Homo sapiens: one gene and its partners. The protein of the gene in region 3 interacts with the protein of the main gene of each other region in a pairwise test. Each region holds a gene or a part of one and is shown on either strand. Other genes may lie near its edges. The genes, in order: alpha-crystallin A2 chain, SNRPB2, GABPB1, VBP1, GIPC1, STIP1 and MAGEB18.

Region 1 (3,393 bases), on a different chromosome or scaffold from region 3:
TTATGAGGTGCTGGGTGGGACTCAGGCCCTCCAGAACAGCAGAACCTGCACCGCTCACCCGTGGCTCAGAGAGGAGGCCTGTGGTTGGGTGGGGGGGGGGGGCGTCCATTGCCTGTCCTTTTAGCCTTGGCAGGGCACCTAAGTAAACTTGCCAAGAGCTTTGCTAGCCGTGGGCAGGCCGAGCTCATTGGAGGAGGTGCTAGGAACGCCCTGCTCTCTGGCTTTCAGGACTATGACCCCCACCTGCTCCCAGGTCTCCGGGACTCAGGAGACCAGAGGAACCCGGGAGCTGGCATTCGCCACCACGCATGCCTGGATGGGCTGCTCTTGGGGTTTCCAGTATGTGGCTGGTGCCTTACAAAGCACACATGGGTCATGAGCTGATGGAGGAAAGCAAAGGTGGATTCAGGCTGCTCCCTTGTCCACCCTCTCCCCAGTGCCAGGGGAAGCTCTACCACGTGGCTGCAGTGGGGACACAGGCTCTCGCCCAGCCTCTGCAAGGGGATGAAGTGGGACGAGGCCACCTGCCTGACGGAGCAAGACCAGAGTCCATCGCTCTCCACCCACCGAGGCCACCACCCTCTGAGCAGCGAGGAGAGGCCAGCACCACGGGCCACGTCTTACCTCAGAGATGCCGGAGTCCAGCACGGTGCGGAAGAGGGACTGGCGGTAGTAGGGGCTGATGGTGGACGACAGGAAGGGCAGCAGGTCATACTCAAAAAGGCCCTCGCCGAAAAACTGGTCGAACAGCCGGCTGGGGTAGAAGGGCCCCAGGGTGCGCTTGAACCAGGGGTGCTGGATGGTCACATCCATGTTCAGCTTTGGTACCACGGGGACCTGGAGGCTGGCAGGAGTCAGCGGGGCCTCTGGGCAGCGCAGTGTGGAGCCAAGGCCGAGCCCTCCCTATATATGCCACCAGCAGAATGGAGGCATTAAGGGATTTCTCTGGAAAGGCGTGAGCTCATGAAGAAGGCTGCTCAGTCAGCAGAAACGTGGCTGGGACAAGTGCCCGCCCCCAGCCCCAGGAGGGGCTGCACGGACTGTCCCCGAGGCCTGGACTCAGCTGAGGCCCGCCTGGGCACCCTGGGGCTCCCGGGAGGGCAGACAACCCAAGGAGGCGCCTGTGCCCCATACTCGCCTGGGGCGACAATGGAGCTTCTCATCTGCCAGTCACTGGGCAGGGGCTACGTGCCAGGGACCATGCTAGTTCTCTGCACACCTTGTCCTGCCGGGGTGGTCCTCATGGTCGCCAGAGGAGGGAGAGCCCACACCCCCGTTAGACACAGAGGTTAGACACATCGTCGTCAGAGTCTCACCGGGCCTGGGCAAGAGTGCACTGGTTTCCAAAGCGGAGTGCATCTGTGAACCTCCGTTACACTCACCACTTACAAAAGTACGCATGCTTGTTAAAACTCGTGGAGAAGAAGCTGCAAGGTGCCATAATTCCAGCACCTGGGGGAGCCCTATGGCGTTTCATGCTTGTCCTCCAGGGGTCACATGCCTCCAACAGGAAGACGGGCTGGGCTGTGGGCAGATGAGAGCACCACGTGGTGAGCTTCCCTCTGCGGCCCACCCTGGACGCCCAGCCCCATGGCCATCATCCCCTCGATGTAACGCCTCGAGCGTTACATCTCGTAATGATGTAATGCCTTGATGTAACATCCCCACGTAACGCCTCGAGCCTCCGTGGCATGACCTGCCGTGGCTGTTGAGTTGGGCTGCTCCTGTCAGGGTGGCGACATGTCCCCACGTCCCTGTCACCCATGCGGACCCACCACCCACATGATCCTGTTATCCACAAGTCCTGGTGATTATTTTGCTCCTCGACCCATGGCCCCTGTCCAGTTCTCACTAAGTGTCCAGGCACTCCCGGTTTTGTTTGTTTGTTTTTGAGATGGAGTCTTGCTGTGTCACCCAGAGTGGCGCCCAGATCATATAGTGGCGCGATCTCAGCTCACTGCAACCTCTGCCTCCCAGGTTCAAACAATTCTCCCACCTCAGCCTCCTGAGTAGCTGAGACTGCAGGTGCCTGCCACCACACCTGGCTAATTATTATTATTATTATTATTATTATTATTTTTGTATTTTTAGTAGAGACAGGGTTTCACCGTGTTGGCCAGGCTGGTCTCAAACTCTTGACCTCAGGTGACCCACCTGCCTTGGCCTCTCAAAGTGTAGGATTACAGGCGTGAGCCACTGCACCTGGCTCACTCCTAGTTTTAAGTCTTTTGATATTTTGGTATTTTGATATTTTGGTAAACTGGCCCTGGGGAGCATGGTCCTCCCCCACATCCCCCCTGCCAGCCTGGGAAGAGGCCATGCCCCCTCTCCCAGGCTAGCTTTTCTAGTGTACGGTCCAGGCTGTGGGAAGTTGCCTGGTTCTCTTTGGCCTCCTAGTTCCTACTCAGCCTCTAACAGATTCGTGCGTGTGGAGTGAACACACACCCAGGACACTCCCGGGCTTTGCAAATTCATCTCCAGCCCATGGGCTCAGAAGGCCATGAAATGTCAGATGCCCCAGTGTATGCGGATCAGACCTGACACATCCCAGATGGGATCAGGGATGAAAGGGGGGGCTCCGAGGCGTGCTCCACGGGGCACCTCCATCATGAGCAGCACCCATGAGCAGCACCCTTCCTCCTACATTTACAGCACTGTCCGGGGACACAGGATCCCAAAAAATCTTGAAATGATAGCTTTTGCCCTGCAAGGTTACAATTCCAGAGGAGCGATTCCCTGGGGTGCCAAATTAAGGTGCAGATAGGAAACGCTGGGAGAGTGATGGGTGCTTCCCCCGAAAGCCTACACCAGACCTCTCTGCCTGTGGGTCCTCAGAGCCACCCTGTGAAGCAGGTCCCAGCATCATTCCCGCTTCATAGACCAGGAAATGGGAGCTTAGAAGGTTAAGCCGCACACCCAGGTCACTTGGCTTGGAAGAAGGGAAGGGGGTTTAAAGCCACCTTTCCAGTCTGGGGGTCAACATCCAAGCAGTGGCAGGGTCTGGGTGAGGCAGCGGGCGGCCCCACTGTGCTGGCTGCCTATTCCCGGGGCACAGGGAGGGGGAAGAAGAGTCCTTTGGGATGGAAACCAGCATGGAGCTTGGCCCTGGGGAGGGTCGAGCCAGGCCAGGAGCACGGTCAGTGCTGGGCAGAGCCATGCTGGAGCTTGAAGCAAAAGGAGAAGGCCGTCGTCCTCATCCTGGCTTTATGTAAAATGTTGACAGTTTGTCCACCACAAATTTTTTGCATTCATTTTGATTTACTTATTTATTTTATTTATTTATTTTTGAGATGGAGTCTCGCTCTGTCGCCCAGGCTGGAGTGCAGTGGCACAATCTCAGCTCACTGCAACTTCTGCCTCCCGGGTTCAAACGATTCTCCTGCCTCAGCCTCC
Region 2 (3,500 bases), on a different chromosome or scaffold from region 3:
GTTTAAAAGAAATTTTCCATCTAGTTTTCTGCCAGAAAAGTTGTTCTGTGGGGACTCTGCCAAACCAGCCCTAGTGTTCTGTGGGCCTATTCTATCTGTAAAACAGGATTAGTCTAGAATGGCGATTTTCTTTATTTTTCACCAGCTCCCTCAAATTGCATCCCTAGGTGCTCCCTCTGTGACTGTGGGGTGAGGGTAGGTTTGGAGAGGAAAGGGCATTTGGCCTCCAGTGGGCTCTGGAGCCACAGTTCTATGTCAAGCTGAGCAGTTTTGCTTTTGTTTGTTTTATATGTTGTTTGTTGAATACCTCTGGATTAGAATAGCTGATCTTGAGCCAGATCCTCAGGCACTGAGGAGATTTGAACAGTTCAGGATTCCAAAGCCCGCTGGTGGAGCCCACTCATTTGTTCCTTTAACACTTCAATGCAGTTTTCTCTATTCTTTGATTAAATGGAGAGAAGCCGTGGTACAGATATTTCAAAGTCCTGTGTTTCTCACATGAAAATATATGTTTTTTTAATCTAATAAACACACTTGAATCTAACTTTGTCTAAATTATGAATTATAGCCCACAGTTTACTTCCATTTGGCACTCAGTATATTCTGACAGATTTTCTTAGGGATATGTTTAAAATTAGCTTGTAGTGTATTTGCGTAATGAAATTTGAAATATTAATGACTAGTGTAAACATCCTTCAGCATGAGAAGTAACCTGTTTTCAAATAATTAAAACAGCGAATACAGTATGCAAAAACAGATTCGGATATAATATCAAAAATGCGTGGAACTTTTGCTGACAAAGAAAAGAAAAAAGAAAAGAAAAAAGCCAAAACTGTGGAACAGACTGCAACAACCACAAACAAAAAGCCTGGCCAGGTAAGAAAGACCAAGAAAGTTCCTGTTTGTATTGGTGTTAAAAACTTGATAGATGCTTGTCTTACAGGTAAGGAATGATCTTAGGCTTGTCTGTATATGTGCATAAATGTGTGTTTAAAAGGTGGTTTTAAGAAGCTAGAATGGTTGACTTATAAAATTCAGTATTAAGAAACAAAATATAAACCTTAACATGGAGATTTATATTAAGCAGTTTTATATTTGCATGGCATTTAATTCGATCATTGTTTAAAATATGTTAATACCTTTTGGTTTATTTCTCAAGTTTTGCTGCCTATAAATAATACTGTAGTTATTATCTTTAATCATGAGTACTTCACTCAAAGTATCTTTCTGGCTGGGCGCAGTGGCTCTTGCCTGTAATTCCAGCACTTTGGGAGGCCGAGGCAGGAGGATCACGAAGTCAGGAGATCGAGACCATCCTGGCTAACACGGTGAAACCCCGTCTCTACTAAAAATACAAAAAAAATTTAGCTGGGCTTGGTGGTGGGTGCCTGTAGTCCCAGCTACTCTGGGGGCTGAGGCAGGAGAATAGCATGAACCTGGGAGGTGGAGCTTGCAGTGAGCCGAGATTGTGCCACTGAACTCCAGCCTGGGCAACAGAGTGAGACTCTGTCTCAAAAAAAAAAAAAGAAAAAAAAAAACCCAAAAAACAAACAAAAAAAACAGTGTCTTTCTTTGAACAATTCAGTAATGCAAAATATAATTTGAAATACCAGATAAAAGTGAAATGAACTGCTTGGCGCCATGGTGGCTCATGCCTATAATCCCAGCACTTTGGGAGGCTGAGGTGGGTGGATCACCTGAGGTCAGGAGTTCAAGACCAGCCTGGCCAACATGGTGATACCCCGTCTCTACTAAAAATACAAAAAATTACCTGGCCGTGGTGGTGGATGCCTGTAATCCCAGCTACTCAGGAGGCTTGAAGCAGGAGAATTGGTTGAACCTGGGAGGCAGAGGTTGCATTGAGGCAAGATTATGCCATTGCACTCCAGCCTGGGTGACAAGAGCAAGACTCCATCTCAAAAAAAAAAAAAAAAAAAAGTGAAATTCACCAAAAAGTAATTACTTCTGGATTGAAAGTGATTAAAAGTCAGTTTTATTAAATGACTTATGTCCAGTTGTTTTTAAAAGTAAGACTAGGCCTTGGTTTTCTCTTATATATTTCTCCATAATTTTAAAGCTAAGAGGTTAAATTTTATAATATACTATTTAAAGTTTAGGGCTGGTCTTAACAAAAATAACCGACAAATTAAGAACATGAGTGTTTGAGTCAGTGTTAAGATATAAATTCTTAAAGTAAAATTAAATGGAGTAAGAAGGATATCTCTTGGAATTAATGTTATTTTTAATGCAGTAATTATAAATATAAATACCTGCTGCGTTTTTGGAGGGATTGGATATTTAAACTCTCCCTATTTATTTTGCTTAGGGAACTCCAAATTCAGCTAATACCCAAGGAAATTCAACACCAAATCCTCAGGTAATTTTTTTTCCATGTCGTGCTTACCTTAAAATAAGATTGTAAAAATTACAGCAGTGGTATAAAACAATTTCCATGTCTCCAAAAACAAAATGATTTCATCTACAAGACACAGTGCGTTAAATTGTCTGCCACTGCAATGTAAGAACTCAACTCCTGAAGAACATTTTAATTCTTTTTTAGAGAGAGAAAACGACACCTGACTTTATTTCTTGTTTTCCATAATGAATCAATGACAGAATCAAAATGACAGACTTTAAACTCTAAGGGCTGGGAGCAAACATTTTGGTTTCCTCTACAGTACCTAAAGCTTTACACAGTTGCATGGGTAAGGGTAACTGGCAGGGTCAGGGGCTCTCTTCCATTCCAGTTGGTTGAAACACTACAGTGTTACACTCTTTGGGCACATAGTTTTATAGTTAACCTTTGCTCTCACTTCCTGAACACAAATAAATTCCAGCCTTTTTTTTTTAAGCCTCCTTGTACAAATGTTTTAGAAACTCCGTATTAAATCTCCCCATGACATACCTCAAAGAGAAGGCCTCAGTAATGTGCTGATGGTTTCATACTTTTTTTTTTCCAGATGGCGGGGTCTGGCAAGATCCTTAAATCCATAGAATTCTCTGTACCACTGAGGTTTTTCTCCTCTTGTTTTAAGTTACTTGGGTTTTTTATCTCCTCAGCATTTATAGTCCAGTTCACAAATGCCAGCACTTAATCCTCTAAGCCTTGAGTTGTTCACTAATTATTTTTTATACTTGCTCTTTTCTCTTTTATGACAGTAGCAGGAAGACAGAGCTCTTTTCTTATATAGAAGACCCTTTCTTTAGTTCCCCATAACCTCTGGGTGGGATATCAAATGAGTAATATCTAATAAACTAAGTGTTTGTTACTGCTTGTTTGTATGTAACTAGATGCTGTGTATATCTCATTTATTTGCCAAAAATAAGTAAATTAAAAGTCCCTAAGCAGTGGTTCTCGGTGGTAATCTTTCTAGTTCCAATTTTTTTTTTTTTTTTTAGTATGCTGGGAAGTAGTAACAGTACAGAGGAATTGAGTATCTGAGTGATACTGAGTGTGGTAACCAGCTACGGAGGGGTGACATTGCTGGCCATCTCTAATT
Region 3 (3,500 bases):
ACTAATATTTTGAATTTTGTGACAAGCATTACTTAGTTTTCTTTGTATCACTTATCCCTAAAAAATATACTTTGGTTTTGCCTGTTTTGAGTTTTATTTAAACAGAATTATACTGCATGTATTTCTCTGTGACTTGCCTTCTTTTGCTTGACACTGTATTCATGAGATTCACCATGTTAATAACTGTAAGTATAGCTTACTAATTTTCTGTGTTCTATAATATTCCATTGAATGAGTAAACCACAATTAATTTAACCAATCTACTGATGAACATTTAGATTGTTTCCAGTTTTTGTGTTATTATGAATAATGTTGCTGCTAAATACAGTAGTCTTGTATATGTTTCAGGCACATGAACAAGTCTTCTCTCGGGAATAGTCTTAGAAGCCCAACTGCTACATCATATACTATGCACATCTCCAAATTTACTATGTGCTGCCAAACTGTCTTCCATAACGATTATACCAATTCCATACTTCCACCAAAAATATTTGAGAGTTCCCACCATCTCCTCACCAAGCCTTGGTACTGCTCAACTGTTTTTGCTAATCTGGTGGATATATAATAGTATTTCATGATTTTACTTTGCATTTGCCCCAATTTTAATGTAGTTGAGTATCTTTTCATGTTTATTGATCAAACTTTCTCCTTGGTAAAGCACCATATCCAGTCAGTCTTCTATTGCCTTGTCTTTTTATTGCTAACCCATGGGAATTCCTTATGTATTATGGATACTAATCCTTCTTAAGATCTTTCTGTCTTTGGGAGGCCGAGGCGGGCTGATCACGGGGTCAGGAGTTCAAGACCAGCTGGCCAACATATTGAAACCCCATCTCTACTAAAAATACAAAACATTAGCTGGGCTTGGTGGTGGGTGCCTGTAATCTCAGCTACTTGGGAGGCTGAGGCAGGAGAATCACTTGAACCCGGCAGGCGGAGGTTGCAGTGAGCCGAGACTGAACCATTGCACTCCAGCCCAGGCAACAGTGTGAGACTCCATCTCAAAAAAAAAAAAAAAGATCTTTTTGTCTTGAGGTACTACAGCATCACTATGATATATCTAGATATAGATTAGTTTTTAAATTGATCCTGCTGGAGATTTGTTAGGCTACTCAAATCTGTGGGCTGCCATCTTTCATCAGTTCTGGAAAATTCTCAGCAATTACCTCTTTGAATTATTTCATCCCTATTTTTGCTCTTTTTGTGGATCTATGATCAGATGTTAGACTTTCTCACATGATCCTTCATGATTCCTAACATCTCTTTTACATTTTCTATCTATTTTTATCTGTGACATAGTCTGGATCATTTTTTTTTTCATACCTTTCAGTTTACTAATTTTCTCTTTAGCTGTTTCTAATCTGTTACTAAAATTTTATCTCAAGTCCTTATAGGTCTGCTTCTGTTGACAGTTGTTTTAGCAGATTACTGTCCAAATTGGCATGTGTTCATGTGTTTAGTTATTTCTGACTGCTCACTTTCCTTTGAATTTCATTTGTGGATATGAAGCCTGGGATGAAGGCAGGTTCCTCCAGAGCAGATATTCATTTGCTTCTGTCAAGAGCCTGGGGTAATCCCTAGTCCAAAGATCACTTCAAATTCATTTCTCAGTTTACAGTTTTTTAGACTACACAAGTATTTATGAGTTCAGGCTGCAAGTGTGTAAAAAGGATGCCTTGTGATTCCAAATTCTCACCATCAGATTGTTTTCCTCTCTCCATTTGATGTCTTGGTTCACATCAGCTTATTATCTTTGCAGCATCACGGCAACAGGGGCAAGGGCAGGAGCAGACAGGAGGAGGGACAGGGTATTCCTGCTTTATCCCTACACTGAAGGTGCAGCTCTTTGGGATTCCAGAATTATGAGATAAGATCTCCTATCAGACTTCTCTCCATGAACACTCTCAGGTCTTTAGCTTTAGTACCCCAAGCCAGTGAGGTGGAAAAACCACCAGACAAGTGTGAGTTCACCTAATGTTCTTTAGGGTAAAATTTCTCTGGGTTCTTGCCTTCACTTAGTTTTTCAGGTTGATAATCTCTTTCTTTCTAATTCAGCAGTGTACTTAAGAAGACTTTCTTTAAAATATTTCATCAAAAAGTCTTTATTCTTTAAAGATTTATTTATTCTTTAAAGAAACATTTATGGATAAAATGATATGGTCCCTGGAATTTGCTTTAAAATAATACAGAACAAAAAATAATACAGTAGACAGAGTTATAGAGGAAACAATATTCATCATGATTTGATAATTTTTGAAGTTGGGTAAAGGGTATTACAGGGATATCGTTGATATATATTTGAAATTTTCTATAATAAAAAATTTTGTTTTTTCATGAAAAATGTAAAAAGAGAAAGAAAGGCAAAAACGGCAAAATCAAAAATCTGGAATTTTTAGTTGTTACCAATGGGCAGGTTAATTCAGATTCCTAGCATTCCATATCCACAAGACAATACTTTTTTATTTGCCCCCAGAATTAAAGAGTTATTTTTTTTTGCCTTCCCCACAACTACCTTCTTTCCATAGTTGTCAAGATCTCATTCCCATTCCTTTCTTCCTCTTTCGTCATGTCTGCAACAGTTTTACAAGTAATAATTGAAACATAAACTTGTTTTTCTTTTAGGAGTGACTATTAACACTAACTCCAATCTTTATCAGTATCTTTCTGAATTATAAATTCTACCTGTGCTATTTATAAGGCCTTTAAATTAAATCCCAAGCAGATACATTTTTATATTCATGCCACATTAATGCACTCCACAGTTTGAAAGAAAAACTCTTTGTGGATGAAATATTTGGATAAGGTTGTCCAATATCAAAGAAAATAATATAAACCACTTCTTTTAGGACAGTTATAATTCTAAAATAATAAACACATTTGCAAAAATAATAACTTTTTACCACTTATAAACACAATACTGACTACATTTTTCTCTGCAAAAACTCAAAAATGAGAAGGAAAAAGAACACACAATATTAAAATCATTCTTTACCCAGTCTGTAGTAAAGGGAGCTCCATTTGCCATCAAAATACGAACTTCATCATCTTGACCTGCTCGTGCCGCTTCTAAAAGCTTCTTTCCCAAATCTACCAGGGACATCTAAACAAAACATAGATGAACTGAACATCAAAATCTCCATTTATACACTATGACATGACATTTTCCCTTCCTGTCTTTATTAATAAGTCAGTTCTCAATTATCCCTTCAAAAGAGTGTGCTATGGTTAATTTAAAATTACAGATCATACAAAAGCAATTTATATTTGGATTTTAGAATCCATTTTCCTTTCTCATTAAGTTTTTACTTAGAATAAAAGTAGTTTAAATTCTCCAAATACATCTGGTAAAAGATAGAAGAGGTAAGTAGCAGAGAAAAGCTGGCCTAAATTTTTATTTATTTATTTTTTTCTTGACACAGAGTCTCGGCCTGTCACCCAGGCTGGAGTGCAGTGGCACGATGTTGGCTCACTGCAACCTCCGCCTCCTGGGTTCATGTGAT
Region 4 (3,500 bases), on a different chromosome or scaffold from region 3:
AATTATAAATGGATCACTGATTTAAACACAAGAAATTTAAAAAAACAATGATGGACATGATACAACTGATCCGACTTAATGGATAAGTTATATGATAGCTACTAGCAAAATGCTAGTAAGTGACTCCCAAATGCAATCAACCTCACTGACAAGAACATAAGAGAAAAACAGTATGCTAAAAACATTCAGTCAATTAAAGAGAGAAAACAATGATACCGTTTTTGTCACTGGGGTTTAGCTCTTTATGGTAATTAGATGCATGTGTTTTGCATGGAGATATATGCAAAACAGTTCTAGGGTCTCTGTCAAATGTAATTTCTAGCAAAACAGACTAAGGATATAAAAACGAAGCTCTGGTTCTTTCGAGGTAAATTTACTAAATATTATTAGAGACCAAAATGTAAACAAAATATAAACACAACAATGAAAATGAACTTATTGCGTCACATAAAAGAAGTCACTCCATGTGTGCAGCAGGTTGGCAGGGCAAATTTACTACACCCTGTGCTACTGACCTGGCAAGAAATGTGTTAAATGAGCCTGCTGCTTAAGAAAAAAACATAGTGTCATCATTTGATAATACAGTCCAGTGAATAATCTAGAAACACCTAGCATTCATTTTTTCACTACAATTCAATCTGGATGCCATAGATTGCTCAAGTTTGCTTATTTTTGCATGATATGTTCATATAGGTAAACAGAAAGATGTTATACATTTGTAAAATATGTGATACACACACAACATAAGGAGTATGTTCAGATCAAGATTTTTTGTCATGTAAATGACTTTTAAGATGCATTCTGTATATATAAATATTATATGTAATATGCTATAAAGCATATTAATGAATCAATCAGATGCAGCCCTAGCTAACTTAGGAACCAGACCACCAATGACACAGCACATGCCCAAGCAATACACTCCTCCCTACCCTGCTTCACCTGAAGAGAAAGTAGCTTGGCTGGGCACAGTGATTCACGCCTGTAATCCCAGCACTTTGGGAGGCCGAAGCGGGTGGATCACCTGAGGCCAGGAGTTCGAGACCGGCCTGGCCAGCATGGTGAAACTCAGTCTCTACTAAAAAAAAATACAAAAAAATTAGCTGGGCGTGGTGGTGCATGCTTGTAATCCCAGCTACTTGGGAAGTTGAGGCGGGAGGATCCCTTGAATCCAGGAGGTGGAGGTTGCAGTGAGCCGAGGTAGCGCCACTGCTACCCACCAGGAGTGACTTAAATTACCCCCACCTCCACGTACATTACTGGCCAAAGTAGCTGATATCCCTGAGGGAATCTAAGCTGACAGGGAAAAGACATTATAATTTGATCATTATAATAAATAAAGACAATAAATTCAACAACCTCTACCATATGAAACAAAATTAACAAATACCAAAAGATAAAACTATACATTAAATACTTAAAGATACCACAAAGAGAAAAGAAAGGATATTGGTAATATGAAGAGGAACCAACCAGAACTACCAGCTATAAAAATCTTAACAGCTGAAACAAAGAACTCATGGCTATCCATCTAATTGCCAAAAGATAAATGACAAAGACAGAAAAAAGGGAAATAATATAAATAAATGGAAGGCAGAATTAGAAGTGTCAACATCTGTAAACAGGAATCCCAGAAAGAAAGAGGAAAAAAAATTAACAGACGATAGAAAAAGTGATAATCACAAAATTTCCAATTAAAGAAAGATAAAAGATCTCAGATTCAAGTGTCGAAAAAGAGATTAACACATGAAATACTAAGGAACTTTTACACAGCTTGAAGGGTAAAGTTAAATGACAGGCTGCAAGATTTACAACACATACAAAGAAAAAGGCTAGCCTCACCCTCACCCTCGCCCTCGCCCTCTTTGCATGGTCTCCCTCTGATGCCGAGCCGAGGCTGGACTGTACTGCCGCCATCTCGACTCACTGCAACCTCCCTGACTGATTCTCCTGCCTCAGCCTGCCGAGTGCCTGGGATTGCAGGCACGCGCCACCACGCCTGACTGGTTTTCGTATTTTTTTGGTGGAGACAGGGTTTCGCTGTGTTGGCCGGGCTGGTCTCCAGCTCCTGACCGCGAGTGATCTGCCAGCCTCGGCCTCCCGAGGTGCCGGGATTGCAGACGGAGTCTCGCTCACTCAGTGCTCAATGGTGCCCAGGCTGGAGTGCAGTGGCGTGATCTCGGCTCGCTACAACCTCCACCTCCCAGCCGCCTGCCTTGGCCTCCCAAAGTGCCGAGATTGCAGCCTCTGCCCGGCCGCCACCCCATCTGGGAAGTGAGGAGCGTCTCTGCCTGGCCGCCCATCGTCTGGGATGTGAGGAGCCCCTCTGCCCGGCCGCCCACTCTGGGAAGTGAGGAGCGCCTCTTCCAGGCCGTCATCCCGTCTAGGAAGTGAGGAGCGTCTCTGCCCGGCCGCCCATCCTCTGAGATGTGGGGAGCGCCTCTGCCCAGCCACCCCGTCTGAGATGTGAAGAGCACCTCTGCCCCGCCGCCACCCCGTCTGGGAGGTGAGGAGCGTCTCTGACCAGCCACCCCGTCTGAGAGGTGAGGAGCCCCTCCGCCCGGCAGCCGCCCCATCTGAGAAGTGAGGAGCCCCTCCGCCTGGCAGCCGCCCCGTCCGGCAGGTGGGGGGCAGCCCCCGCCCGGCCAGCCGCCCCGTCCGGGAGGTGGGGGGGTGCCTCTGCCCGGCCGCCCCGTCTGGGAAGTGAGGAGCCCCTCTGCCCGGCCGCCACCCCGTCTGGGAGGTGTACCCAACAGCTCGTTGAGAACGGGCCATGATGACGATGGAGGTTTTGTCGAATAGAGAAGGGGGAAATGTGGGGAAAGGAAGGAGAGATCAGATTGTTGCTGTGTCTGTGTGGAAAGAGGTGGACATGGGAGACTCCATTTTGTTCTGTACTAGGAAAAATTCTTCTGCCTTGGGATGCTGTTAATCTATAACCTTACCCCCAACCCCGTGCTCTCTGAAACATGTGCTGTGTCCACTCAGGGTTAAATGGATTAAGGGCGGTGCAAGATGTGCTTTGTTAAACACATGCTTGAAGGCAGCATGCTCGTTAAGAGTCATCACCACTCCCTAATCTCAAGTACCCAGGGACACAAACACTGCGGAAGGCGGCAGGGCCCTCTGCCTAGGAAAACCAGAGACCTTTGTTCACATGTTTACCTGCTGACCTTCCCTCCACTATTGTCCTATGACCCTGCCAAATCCCCCTCTCCGAGAAACACCCAAGAATGATCAATACTAAAAAAATTAAAAAAAGAAAGAAATAGGCTGAACTCACTTATGAACAGAAATTCAAAAATCCTAAATAAAATAATAGCAAATTGAAAAAAAAAAAAAACAAAAAGGCTAGCATGTAAACTACATAGAGCCATCTGCTGCAAAACAACTAGATCATGACACAAAAATAGTTTTGTTGCATAGCTGACATCATAGGAGTGAGAGAAATTCCAGAAAAATAAAAAGAGAAAAGTAGCCCTCCAACTACTTGGGAGGCT
Region 5 (3,500 bases), on a different chromosome or scaffold from region 3:
AGGCTTCATGGAGGAGTGGGCCTGGAGTAGGTATTGGCAGGCAGAGAGGGTTGGGATATTCCTGGGCAGGGCAGGGCAGAGGAGGAGACACCCATAGTAATGACAACAGCGTCCTTAAATGGAGTCTGAGGCAGAGTGTAGATGGGATACGTGGGTAATCTCTTTGGATTTCCACAACCACCTTGAGAGTGACAGGAATTCCACCCATTTTTCAGATGAAGAAACTGAGGCCCTGTGATGTGAAGTGACTTGCCCCCCAGCCACACAGCTGGTAAGTGGCAGGGGTGGGATTTGAACCCAGGCCACGAAGCCTCTTATGGCCGTGGCAGGCAGATTCATTACTCACTCACTTTCCTCACTGCTGTTAATGCCTCCTCACGGGTGGGGACACGGAAGCTGGCATGAACCAGGGCAGTGGGGTGGGCAGAGAGAGAGAGTAAGGAGGCTGGGAATTGGTGGTCAGGATGTAGGGATCTTGGGAAAAGGAGGAAGCTTGAATCTTGGTACAGATGGCAGTAGCAAGGCCGGGTGCAGTGGCTCACGCCTATAATCCCAGCACTTTGGGAGGCCGAGGCAGGTGGATCACGAGGTCAGGGGATCGAGACCATCCTGGCTAACATGATGAAACAGCGTCTCTACTAAAAATACAAACAATTAGCTGGGCATGGTGGCGGGCACCTGTAGTCCCAGCTACTCGGGAGGCTGAGGCAGGAGAATGGCGTGAACCCGGGAAGCAGAGCTTGCAGTGAGCTGAGATCGTGCCACTGCACTCCAGCCTGGGCAACAGAGCGAGACTCCGTCTCAAAAAAAAAAACAAAAGATGGCAGTAGCAGTAATTGTCACCAATATTTATGCAACCCTTATTGTGTGCCAGGACTGTTCCAAGCACATGCATGATTTCCTTGGAGCTCAGAGAGGTTAAGACCCTTGCCCAAAGTCACACAGCTATTAAGAGATGAAGCCAGGTTCCAGATTCATGTTTTTAGTTTCCTGCCTCCCAGTGCGTAGAGCTGGCGGAATTGGAGGGATGATGAGGGGTCTTTTCTTTTTTCTTTTTTTTGAGATGGAGCCTCACTCTGTCACCCAGGCTGGAGTGCAGTGGCACGATCTTGGCTCACTGCAAACTCCACCTCCCGGGTTCATGCCATTCTCCTGCCTCAGCCTTCCGAGTAGCTGGGACTGCAGGCGCCCGCCACCACGCCTGGCTAATTTTGAAAATATATGGCTGGGCGTGGTGGCTCATGCCCACCTCGGCCTCCCGGAGTGTTAGGATTACAGGCGAGAGCCACCACACCCGGCCGACACTGATTTTTCTTTCCAGCGAGGTCAGAGCCCGGGGAGGGGTCAGAGCAGAGACAAATGCGACATGACTTATGTTTTACAGGACCATTCTGGCTGCTGTCTGGACAAGAAGTCGTAGGGGGTGAGGGTGGAAGCTGGGAAACCCACAGGAGGCAACCACACTAGTTTAGGTAAGTGATCATGGAGATGGACCAGGTGAGATGAGAGGGTGTGTTAGGGGACAGACGAATGGATGCATGAACAAATGGATACATGAGACTAGGTGCAGGCTGGGTGCAGTGGCTCACACCTCTAATCCCAGCACTCTGGGAGGCCAAGGTGGGCGAATCACCTGAGGTCAGGAGTTCCAGACCAGCCTGGTCAACATGGAGAAACCCCATCTCTACTAAAAATACAAAAATTAGCCAGGTGTGGTGGCACGCACCTGTAATCCCAGCTACTCAGGAGGCTGAGGCAGGAGAATCGCTTGAACCTGGGAGGTGGAGGTTGCAGTGAGCCGAGATCGCGCCATTGCACTCCAGCCTGGGTGACAGAGTGAGAGTTCATCTCAAAAAAAAAAAAGATTGGATGCGGCCAAGCTGAATCCAGCATGGCCCCCTGGAAGAGACCATTGGATAGGAGGCACCAGGAAGTCCCTTTTACATAAGAAAATATAGGCTGAGCGCAGTGGCTCACACCAGCCTTCTTTGGCTCACACCATGTTGGCCAGGCTGGTCTCAAACTCCTGACCTCAGGTGATCCACCCGCCTCGGCCTCCCAAAGTGTTGGGATTACAGGCGGGAGCCACCGTCCCTGCACCCGGCCTAACTAATGTATTTTCTTTCTTTCTTTCTTTCTTTTTTTTTTTTTTTGAGATGGAGTCTCGCTCTGTCACCCAGGCTAGAGTGCAGTGGCATGATCTCGGCTCACTGCAAGCTCCGCCTCCCGAGTTCACGCCATTCTCCTGCCTCAGCCTCCCGAGTAGCTGGGACTACAGGTGTGTGCCACCACGCCCAGCTAATTTTTTTTGTATTTTTAGTAGAGACGGGGTTTCACTGTGTTAGCCAGGATGGTCTCGATCTCCTGACCTCGTGATCCACCCGCCTTGGACTCCCAAAGTGCTGGGATTACAGGCGTGAGCCACCACACCTGGCCTTTTTTTTCTTTTTGAGACAGAATTTCGCTCTTATTGCCCAGGCTGGAGTGCAATGGCACTGTCTCAGCTCACCTCAACCTCTGCCTCCCAGGTTCAAGCGATTCTCCTGCCTCAGCCTCCCTAGTAGCTGGGATTACAGGCATGTGCCACTACACCCAGCTAATTTTGTATTTTTAGTAGAGATGGGGTTTCTCCATGTTGGTCAGGCCAGTCTCGAACTCTCGACCTCAGGTGATCCGCCTGCCTCTGCCTCCCAAAGTGCTGGGATTACAGGCGTGAACCACCGTTCCTGGCCTAACTAATGTATTTTCTTTTTTTTCTTTTTGAGACTGAGTCTCTCTCTGTTGCCCAGGCTGGAGTGCAATGGCACGGTCTTGATTCACCGCAACCTCCACCTCCCAGGTTCAAGCAATTCTCCTGCCTCAGCCTCCCCAGTAGCTGGGATTACAGGTGCCCACCACCGTGCCTGGCCTAATTTTTTGTAATTTTAGTAGAGACGGGGTTTCACCATGTTGGCCAGGCTGGTCTTGAACTGCTGACCTCGTGATCCGCCCGCCTCGGCCTCCCAAAGTGCAGGGATTACAGGTGTGAGCCACTGCACCTGGCCAACTACTGTAAGTTCTGGAGAACTAATCCGGGCTCTTGAGAGCAAGCACTCATTGCTTCCAGAGCTACTTCAAGCCATTCAGGAGAGATCTGGCCCCATAACACAGACACCTCCCACTAGGCCCCACCTCCCAACACCGCACCACCACTTTGGGGATCAAATTTTAGCATGAGTTTCTTTTTTTTTTTTTTTCTCCTTGCCATGTTTCACATTTAATAAGATTCTGTCACTTTAATACATAAAACCCTTTGAAATCAATGTCAACCAGGAAAATTCATGTTAGAAAAAATTGGAATGAGAGCTAATATTGTATATTCAGAACATCTGAAAAAACATTTTTGACTATTACAAAAGTTTATTTAACAAAAAGTCTAATATGAAAATGTACATGACCTAATTTTTACATCATAGTAAAACAGGCCCTATGGAGAGAGGACATGGGTTTCTCTGCTGAAC
Region 6 (3,500 bases), on a different chromosome or scaffold from region 3:
CCCACCTTCTTCCTGTGAGGGGTGACTAGGGCTGTGCTCTGTTTGTCATTTGGATGCTTTGGAAATCTGTGGCAAATGAATTGACTTTTCCATGGAAGGAGCATGTGGCACATTCTGGAGTGGCTTCGTGAGCTCCATGTGGAGACCGGAAGAGTGGCAGAGCCCTCGTTCGTCACATGGGGGCCAGCGTGGAGTGCAGCCTGGGCTCTTTGCCCCTGCTTATTTTTTCTTTGCTGGCTCCTTAGGGAAGGTGTGAGAAATTAAATAAATGAACCGGTTTTCTCTCTTCTGATCTGTAAAGTCACCTATTTATTTGTTGGTAACTACATGAAAGAATGAGTGTTGTCTTTAAAGCTTGGGATTAAATGGGCACATCATAGAGAAGCTGTGTGTTCCTTTCCCCTCAGGTCAATGAGCTGAAGGAGAAAGGCAACAAGGCCCTGAGCGTGGGTAACATCGATGATGCCTTACAGTGCTACTCCGAAGCTATTAAGCTGGATCCCCACAACCACGTGCTGTACAGCAACCGTTCTGCTGCCTATGCCAAGAAAGGAGACTACCAGAAGGCTTATGAGGATGGCTGCAAGACTGTCGACCTAAAGCCTGACTGGGGCAAGGTCAGCTGTGGGCAGTGGAGGGAGAGAGGCCCTTCAGACCCTTCCAGAAATGCCTTTTGGTGGCCTGAGGTTTACCTGTCCTGATACACTGATAGTTACCTACCCACCTCCCTGTTTGAGTATCCTCCTCAGAAATGGCATTTTTCATCAAATCTAAGGTAGCCATTAGTTGTAATACAGGCTTTATTTTTGGTACTAAGAAGGAAGAGGCCAGGGCTGGGCGCGGTGACGCACGCCTGTGATCCCAACACTTTGGGAGGCTGAGGTGGGCGGATCACTTGAGGTCAGGAGTTCAAGACCAGCCTGGCCAACATGGTGAAACCCTGTCTGTACTAAAAATGCAAAAAAATTTAGCCAGGCATGGTGGCATGTGCTTGTAGTCCCATCTACTCAGGAGACTAAGGCAGGAGGATCACCTGAGCCTGGCAAGCGGAGGTTGCAGTGAGCTGAAATCGTGCCACTGCATCCAGCCCAGGTGACACGGCAAGACCCTGTCTCAAAAAAAAAGGAAGAGGCCCGGTACAGTGGCTCACGCCTATAATCCCAGCACTTTGGGAGGTTGAGGCAGGAGGATTACTGGAGCCCAAAGGTTTGGGACCAGCCTGGGTAACATAAGGAGTCCCTGTCTTTACCAAAAAAATAAGGGAAAAAGTGTTGCCAAAGAAACTGACCACAGTCGATCAGAGGTGAACAAGGCGGGGCGGATGTGCCTCTGCTATTTGGATGGATCCTTACAGTAGCAGCCTTGGCCTCGTAGCCTACTCCTCTCCTTTTTTTCTCTTTGGCCTTCATGTGAATACTCATTTTTCCCCCATAAAAGTAGAATTGTTCTTTTTTGAGTTCGTCTTCTAGATTTACCTCTGGGTGTTCTCTATTTTGTGTCTGTCTTTGGTGGTTTAAGGGCTATTCACGAAAAGCAGCAGCTCTAGAGTTCTTAAACCGCTTTGAAGAAGCCAAGCGAACCTATGAGGAGGGCTTAAAACACGAGGCAAATAACCCTCAACTGAAAGAGGGTTTACAGAATATGGAGGCCAGGTTGGCAGGTAGGTACCACGCACAGTTTTCTTTCTTATTATTAATGTGATTAATTTTGAGTCTTCACCCCTGAGAAATGTCAGTCTGGTAGGGTATGGGACACAGTAATTCTAGTGAACTCATTTCATAGTGATGTGCTTTCCTTTATTTGGACAGAGAGAAAATTCATGAACCCTTTCAACATGCCTAATCTGTATCAGAAGTTGGAGAGTGATCCCAGGACAAGGACACTACTCAGTGATCCTACCTACCGGGAGCTGATAGAGCAGCTACGAAACAAGCCTTCTGACCTGGGCACGTAAGTGGACGCCGCTCACTGAGGTTCTGGAAATCGGGGAATGTTATGCTTTCTTCCTGTAACCTCACAGCAGAGGGTTCCCTGGTCTAAACTGCAGAGTTTTTGCCTTTGCTTATTCTCTGCAGAGCAGTAGGTGGTGGTCGTTTATTTGTAATTATAGAAAGGGTCAGGGGAGCATATTTCACAGTAATCTAGAATGTTCTTTGTCATCTGTATACACCTCTCTCCTGCTCTTCTAGAACTCTGATCTAGCGTCAACCCCATCCTTTCCATCTACTTAGGCCCTACTTTCTCTGTTGGTATATCAGAGTGGAAACAGGGTTGAAGTTCATGTGTAAAGATGTGTCTAAATCTTGTACTGGTATTCATCTCTATCAATCCTCTGGCTCCTGAGATCAGCTACGGAAGTATACCTAAAACAACTCATTCCTCTGTGTATCTGCTAACCTTGAGGAATAAACTTGACCTCTGTGACTTCATTTTATTTTATTTTATTTTATTTTATTTTTTCAAGATGGAGTCTCGCTCTGTCCCCTAGGCTGGAGTGCAGTGGTGTGATCTCAGTTCGCTGCAACTTCCACCTCCTGGGTTCAAGCGATTCTCCTGCCTCAGCCTCCTGAGTAGCTGGGATTACAGGTGTACGCCACCACGCCCAGCTAATTTTTGTATGTTTAGTAGTAGCGGTGGGTTTCACCATGTTGGCTAGGCTGGTCTCAAACTCCTGACCTCAAGTGGTCTGCCCGCCTCGGCCTCCCAAAGTGCTGGGATTACAGGTGTGAGCCACCGTGCTCCGCTATCTGTGACTTCATTTTATTTGTTTTTGTTGACTCTATTTTAGATAGTGTTTTGACGGTTTGAGTATTTCTCAATTGTAACTCATGAGTGGTGCAAAATCTAGCCATCTTTTGATGGGTGAGGAGCTTCTAAACACAAGAATCTGACTTTAGTAGTAAGTGGGAGTTAAAAGACTAATTGTGGGGAGGAGTAATTACAATTTTTCTTTATTTTTTTAAATCAATACTAGGAAACTACAAGATCCCCGGATCATGACCACTCTCAGCGTCCTCCTTGGGGTCGATCTGGGCAGTATGGATGAGGAGGAAGAGATTGCAACACCTCCACCACCACCCCCTCCCAAAAAGGAGACCAAGCCAGAGCCAATGGAAGAAGATCTTCCAGAGAATAAGAAGCAGGTCTTGTTTTTTTCTCTCCTCACTGTCACCTATCTATAAACAACTAGAAATCTTTATGTTGAATGGGGACATCTGTTGACCTTGATTGACCATGATTATTATGGTTTTTTTAGAGACGGAGTCTTGCTGTGTTTCCCAGGTTGGTCTTGAACTTCTGGCCTCAAGCGATGCTCCTGCTTCAGCTAGGATTACAGTCACGAGCCACTGTGCCCACCTAAAACTATTTTGAGTGCTTTAGTATGCGCTAAGCTTATGGCTATTATTCATTAGAATGGCCAGCATGTTAAAAAATCAGCTTCAGGCCAGGCACGGTGGCTCATGCCTATAATCCCAGCACTTTTGGAGGCCAAGGTGGGC
Region 7 (3,929 bases), on a different chromosome or scaffold from region 3:
CACACCATCTGAGTGCCTGGCCTCTGCTCTCCAGTCCCAAAGCTTCATCTAGCCCACCACCCAGCTTAAATTAAAAGTATATCCCACTGAGAGACTCAAAGTTTCCAAAAGTCTAAAAGGGCCTTTCTTCAGAGAATTTGCACCTTACCATTTTCAGCCAGATACACTTCAGCACTTTTCCCAAACCCCTCTCTAACTCCTTACCTCCTTACTCCCTCTTGTTACTTGTCCTTTAGGTCTTAGAAGTATTTCACCATCTTCCATACATTATTACTGTTCATTAATTGTAAAAGTCTAAGCAGAGGTGGGTGTTTTGTATCCTGGTTTTCCCATTTCTAACAAAATTACTTTCAAAAATCAGATGTTGGATTAATATTGGAGGAATGAATGAGCCGGTAAGCATAGATGCTGGTTCATAAACATTTTATTTCTTCCTACCTTCTTCAGTAAGCTAAGCCAATCCAGGTATGACTTTTATTTTTATATAACAGACTAAAATGGAAAAAGAAAACCAAGAACTGAAAAGTTTACTTTTTCTCACCTATGTTTTGATCTCCAAAATTTTACTGCTAAATCATCTCACATTTTTTAAGGAAATACCTATTCCAATACTGTGTTTCCTTGTTCTGGCTCATTAAATATGAAAGAAGGTTTCCCAATTTGTTTTACAGAACAATAAAACTCCTACTCTTAAATAGCAATACGTGTGTAACCAAAGTCATTAATAAATATAGATTCTGAAGTTATCTAAAACTTCTATTATAAGCAACAACATTTGAAATATAACACCAAAAAAAAAAGAAAGAAAAAGATACAACTCCGAGTTACTATAGACTATTAACACAAAATGATATATGCTGTGTTCCCTCCAGACGCACTCTGGCCATTCACTACTTAGAATGTTGACTGCTCTTCTCTTCCACAAAGAAAACAATCTTCAGACTTGAACATTTGAAATGTAACCTAGGGGAAACAAAAAGATGGAAAAGTAAAACTCGAGTTATCAATATACAATAGGAATGCAAAGATGATATACACTTATTTCTTCCAGCCCCACCATGGCCCTCCACTATTAGAATGTTGACAGACCTTTTCGACCAAAAAGTGAAGAACAAGCCTCAGATTTCACTTAGCATGGGAGAAGCTGCTAGACGTGGTTCTGGAACGTGCATTTGCCATGGCAGCAGTATGAGCCCTGGCTGCAGCTCTGGCTTGGGTTCTCTGTTCCTCATCCCTCAAAGCCTCTTCATAGCAGGATGGGAAGGCACTAGGGACGGTATCATGTATCTTGGCTACAAACTCCAGGACTTTCATCTTGCTAGTTTCAGCGTGAGCTCTTGGACCCCACAGGAATTCATAGCGTGGAGGATCACTGTTGGGCACTTGCTGGTACTCCAGGTACTTTAGCTGCACCAAATCTTTGGTCATGACCTTCCTGGGATCCCCATAGAGGAAGTGCTTCCTATCGGCATATACACCCATCATATTCATAATTTCCCAGACTGCCTCTTCTGGGGCACGGTTGCCATTCAGAAAGATCACACCCAGTGCAATCATCAGGAGGCCAGTCTTGGGAATTTTTTCTTCATCACTGGTTGTTTCATCATAGGTGAGGTCTAATTTGCTGAAAAAGGCATAGTAGTGCCTGATGGGATCCACTTCCTTCAAATCAACACCAAGTGCCAGCTCCATGTGCTCAGAGGCTCTCTTGAGGATCTCATTGAAGTGACACTTATCCTTCCTGATAACAAACTTTATCATATCTCCCTTTGTAATTGGCTCTTTCGTTTCATACTTCTGAAGCAAGAAATGCACCAGCGACACTACTTTCTTGTTTAAAGGATCTTCTTTCCAGCCCTCAGCTTCCCTTGAGGAACCTAGACTTTTCTCATCTTGGCTGCTGGCACCTTCATTTGAACTGCATGAAACAGGTGCAATAGCATTGGTGGTGGATGGGGCTCCCTGAAGCGCTTCAGGGATGCTAGGTGTCTCAGCAGCAGGCAAATTCTGGGGTCTGTCACCAAAGAGAAGATAGGCAGGGGAGGGTGACTCTCCTTCTGCCACAGTGGCCTGCGTAGCTCCCAGATCCTGATTCTCACAACGAGCCTGGTGGCGTTTCTCACGGGCACGGAGCTTACTCTTCTGACCTCGAGGCATAATTACTCTTGTCAGGGACTACAGACAATAGTGCAGGCAGTTGAATTGATGAAGAGGGCACCCTAGAAGACGGAGGATGAGATAGTGTTCACAGCCTTGGTAGGGAGATTCTACCTTGGTCTAAGAATGGCCACCTCTCCTGGTTCTCTTGAGGGTATTGCTTTAGGAACCCATAAGGCAGGAGCGGGGTGGGACTGTTCTGTGGGGGGTTGTCACATCAGTTCTAACTCAGGATATTAATTTTACTCCTGACTACATCAGTTCTAACTTAGGATATTAATTTTACTTTAGTCTTTTGAGTCCTCCGTCTGTTGACTTGAGGCTGCCTCGCTTTAGACCATGGCTTCCCATCCCACAGATTCCCAACAGGAAGTAAGGGTGTTAGGCCTAACAGCTGCGCTTTGGGACACAGAGAGTTGAAAGTGGGAGCAGGACAGAGCAGAGAAGGATGGGTCTCTGTGAGGCAGCCTCTGTTCTGGGAAGAGTGTGTCTTGAAGGTCATAACAAATGATACTCACTTTGACACCTGCCGGATCCTGAGATTTATTTCTCTGGCCGCATGTTTCAGACCAAGGTTTCGCCCGTAACAGCTTGATGATGTGGAAGATAGGTCAAGAGAAACATGTCCGGCCACGCCCACTTTGCTCTCCCAGCTTAACGGCAAATGGTTCTGCGTTCGGGGGAGGGGCAGTTCTTAAAGAAATACATATATTTCTTTCATTGACTTTGCAGGCACTGGGACTTCTCTCTTTGCTAAGCTGAATCAGTCAGCCTCAGAAAAAGGATCATTTCCCTGAGTCCAGAGTAGGAAGTAAGGTGGAACCTGAGCCCAGCAGCCACGCCTGGGGACTCCCAAGATTGACAGTAGGGGCGGGGCTCTGTGGGGGTCCCTCTTCTTGGGTAGGTAATGCCCTCAGTCCTCACTCAGTGTCTTATCTTGACTTTTTGTAGGTGCTGGGCCACTTCTCTGCTGACTTGAGGCCATCAAATAAGGCACTAAATCTGTAAATAAAGATAATTGACATCTGTACAATATTATGTTCACCATATATAAACATATTGTATTGCTGTACTTAGGCATCCACCTAAGTCTATCAACACATTTTTATATTTGCTTTGATAGAGTGTGTATGTTTTTGTGAATGTTCTTTTTAGGTATATTTTGAATGTTGCTGCTCTTTTGAATGGTATATTTTTCATTCCATTTTTTTTTATTTTTAAAGCCCTCTCAAATTTATTGAAATAGATTTTCAGGATGGTACATTAGGAGAAAAATGAGGATGACAGAAACATCAAAGGATCTTTCATTCAGGCACTAAAAGTAATCCAGAAAAGAACTTCTCAGAGAAAATCTTAAGTAGCTAGGATCTTTCCTTATTTGGAACCATTACTTTCAATTTAATGCTTTGTATATTATGTTTGTTTTGTTTCTACTACACTGGCTGAGTCAGCTTTGAATTTCTGAAAAGCTTTACTTATGCCCCTCGCGTAAGATCCTAATCCAGTTCACAGTGAATTTCATGACTTAAAGTCTTGAGGTAGCACAAATGTTTTTACAAGATTCCTTGAGGCTTCTTTTTCTTTAACCTTTATTTTAAGTACAGGAGTATATGTGTAGGTTTGTTATATAGGTAAACTCGTGTCATGGGGGTTTGTTGTACAGATTATTTTATCAGCCTTGTATTAAGTCTAGCACCTATTAGTTATTTTTCCTGACCCTCTCCTTCCTCCCACCCTCCACCTTCTAAAAGGCCCCAGTATCCATTGTTCCG

Evidence for each region.
Region 1: the proteins of GABPB1 (region 3) and alpha-crystallin A2 chain interact in binary tests that used the Homo sapiens proteins (3 or more experiments, as listed by UniProt).
Region 2: the proteins of GABPB1 (region 3) and SNRPB2 interact in binary tests that used the Homo sapiens proteins (3 or more experiments, as listed by UniProt).
Region 4: the proteins of GABPB1 (region 3) and VBP1 interact in binary tests that used the Homo sapiens proteins (3 or more experiments, as listed by UniProt).
Region 5: the proteins of GABPB1 (region 3) and GIPC1 interact in binary tests that used the Homo sapiens proteins (3 or more experiments, as listed by UniProt).
Region 6: the proteins of GABPB1 (region 3) and STIP1 interact in binary tests that used the Homo sapiens proteins (3 or more experiments, as listed by UniProt).
Region 7: the proteins of GABPB1 (region 3) and MAGEB18 interact in binary tests that used the Homo sapiens proteins (3 or more experiments, as listed by UniProt).

The regions. Positions count from the first base shown.
Region 1 is NC_000021.9:6,558,203-6,561,595, reverse strand, and holds part of alpha-crystallin A2 chain, read right to left. Parts: intron 1,525-3,393; 5' UTR 814-1,524; coding exon 625-813; intron 1-624. UniProt on the Homo sapiens protein: Contributes to the transparency and refractive index of the lens. In its oxidized form (absence of intramolecular disulfide bond), acts as a chaperone, preventing aggregation of various proteins under a wide range of stress conditions.
Region 2 is NC_000020.11:16,736,526-16,740,025, forward strand, and holds part of SNRPB2 (U2 small nuclear ribonucleoprotein B''), read left to right. Parts: intron 1-735; coding exon 736-876; intron 877-2,326; coding exon 2,327-2,377; intron 2,378-3,500. UniProt on the Homo sapiens protein: Involved in pre-mRNA splicing as component of the spliceosome. Associated with sn-RNP U2, where it contributes to the binding of stem loop IV of U2 snRNA.
Region 3 is NC_000015.10:50,306,699-50,310,198, forward strand, and holds part of GABPB1 (GA-binding protein subunit beta-1 isoform beta 2), read right to left. Parts: intron 3,101-3,500; coding exon 2,993-3,100; intron 1-2,992.
Region 4 is NC_000023.11:155,222,960-155,226,459, reverse strand, and holds part of VBP1 (prefoldin subunit 3), read right to left. Parts: intron 1-3,500. UniProt on the Homo sapiens protein: Binds specifically to cytosolic chaperonin (c-CPN) and transfers target proteins to it. Binds to nascent polypeptide chain and promotes folding in an environment in which there are many competing pathways for nonnative proteins.
Region 5 is NC_000019.10:14,489,628-14,493,127, reverse strand, and holds part of GIPC1 (PDZ domain-containing protein GIPC1), read left to right. Parts: intron 1-211; exon of another isoform or gene 212-215; 5' UTR 216-271; intron 272-1,384; 5' UTR 1,385-1,472; intron 1,473-3,500. UniProt on the Homo sapiens protein: May be involved in G protein-linked signaling.
Region 6 is NC_000011.10:64,192,671-64,196,170, forward strand, and holds part of STIP1 (stress-induced-phosphoprotein 1), read left to right. Parts: intron 1-407; coding exon 408-617; intron 618-1,518; coding exon 1,519-1,660; intron 1,661-1,808; coding exon 1,809-1,950; intron 1,951-2,974; coding exon 2,975-3,143; intron 3,144-3,500. UniProt on the Homo sapiens protein: Acts as a co-chaperone for HSP90AA1. Mediates the association of the molecular chaperones HSPA8/HSC70 and HSP90.
Region 7 is NC_000023.11:26,137,214-26,141,142, reverse strand, and holds MAGEB18 (melanoma-associated antigen B18), read right to left. Parts: upstream 2,801-3,929; 5' UTR 2,676-2,800; intron 2,220-2,675; 5' UTR 2,158-2,219; coding exon 1,126-2,157; 3' UTR 1,090-1,125; intron 964-1,089; 3' UTR 407-963; downstream 1-406. UniProt on the Homo sapiens protein: May enhance ubiquitin ligase activity of RING-type zinc finger-containing E3 ubiquitin-protein ligases. Proposed to act through recruitment and/or stabilization of the Ubl-conjugating enzyme (E2) at the E3:substrate complex.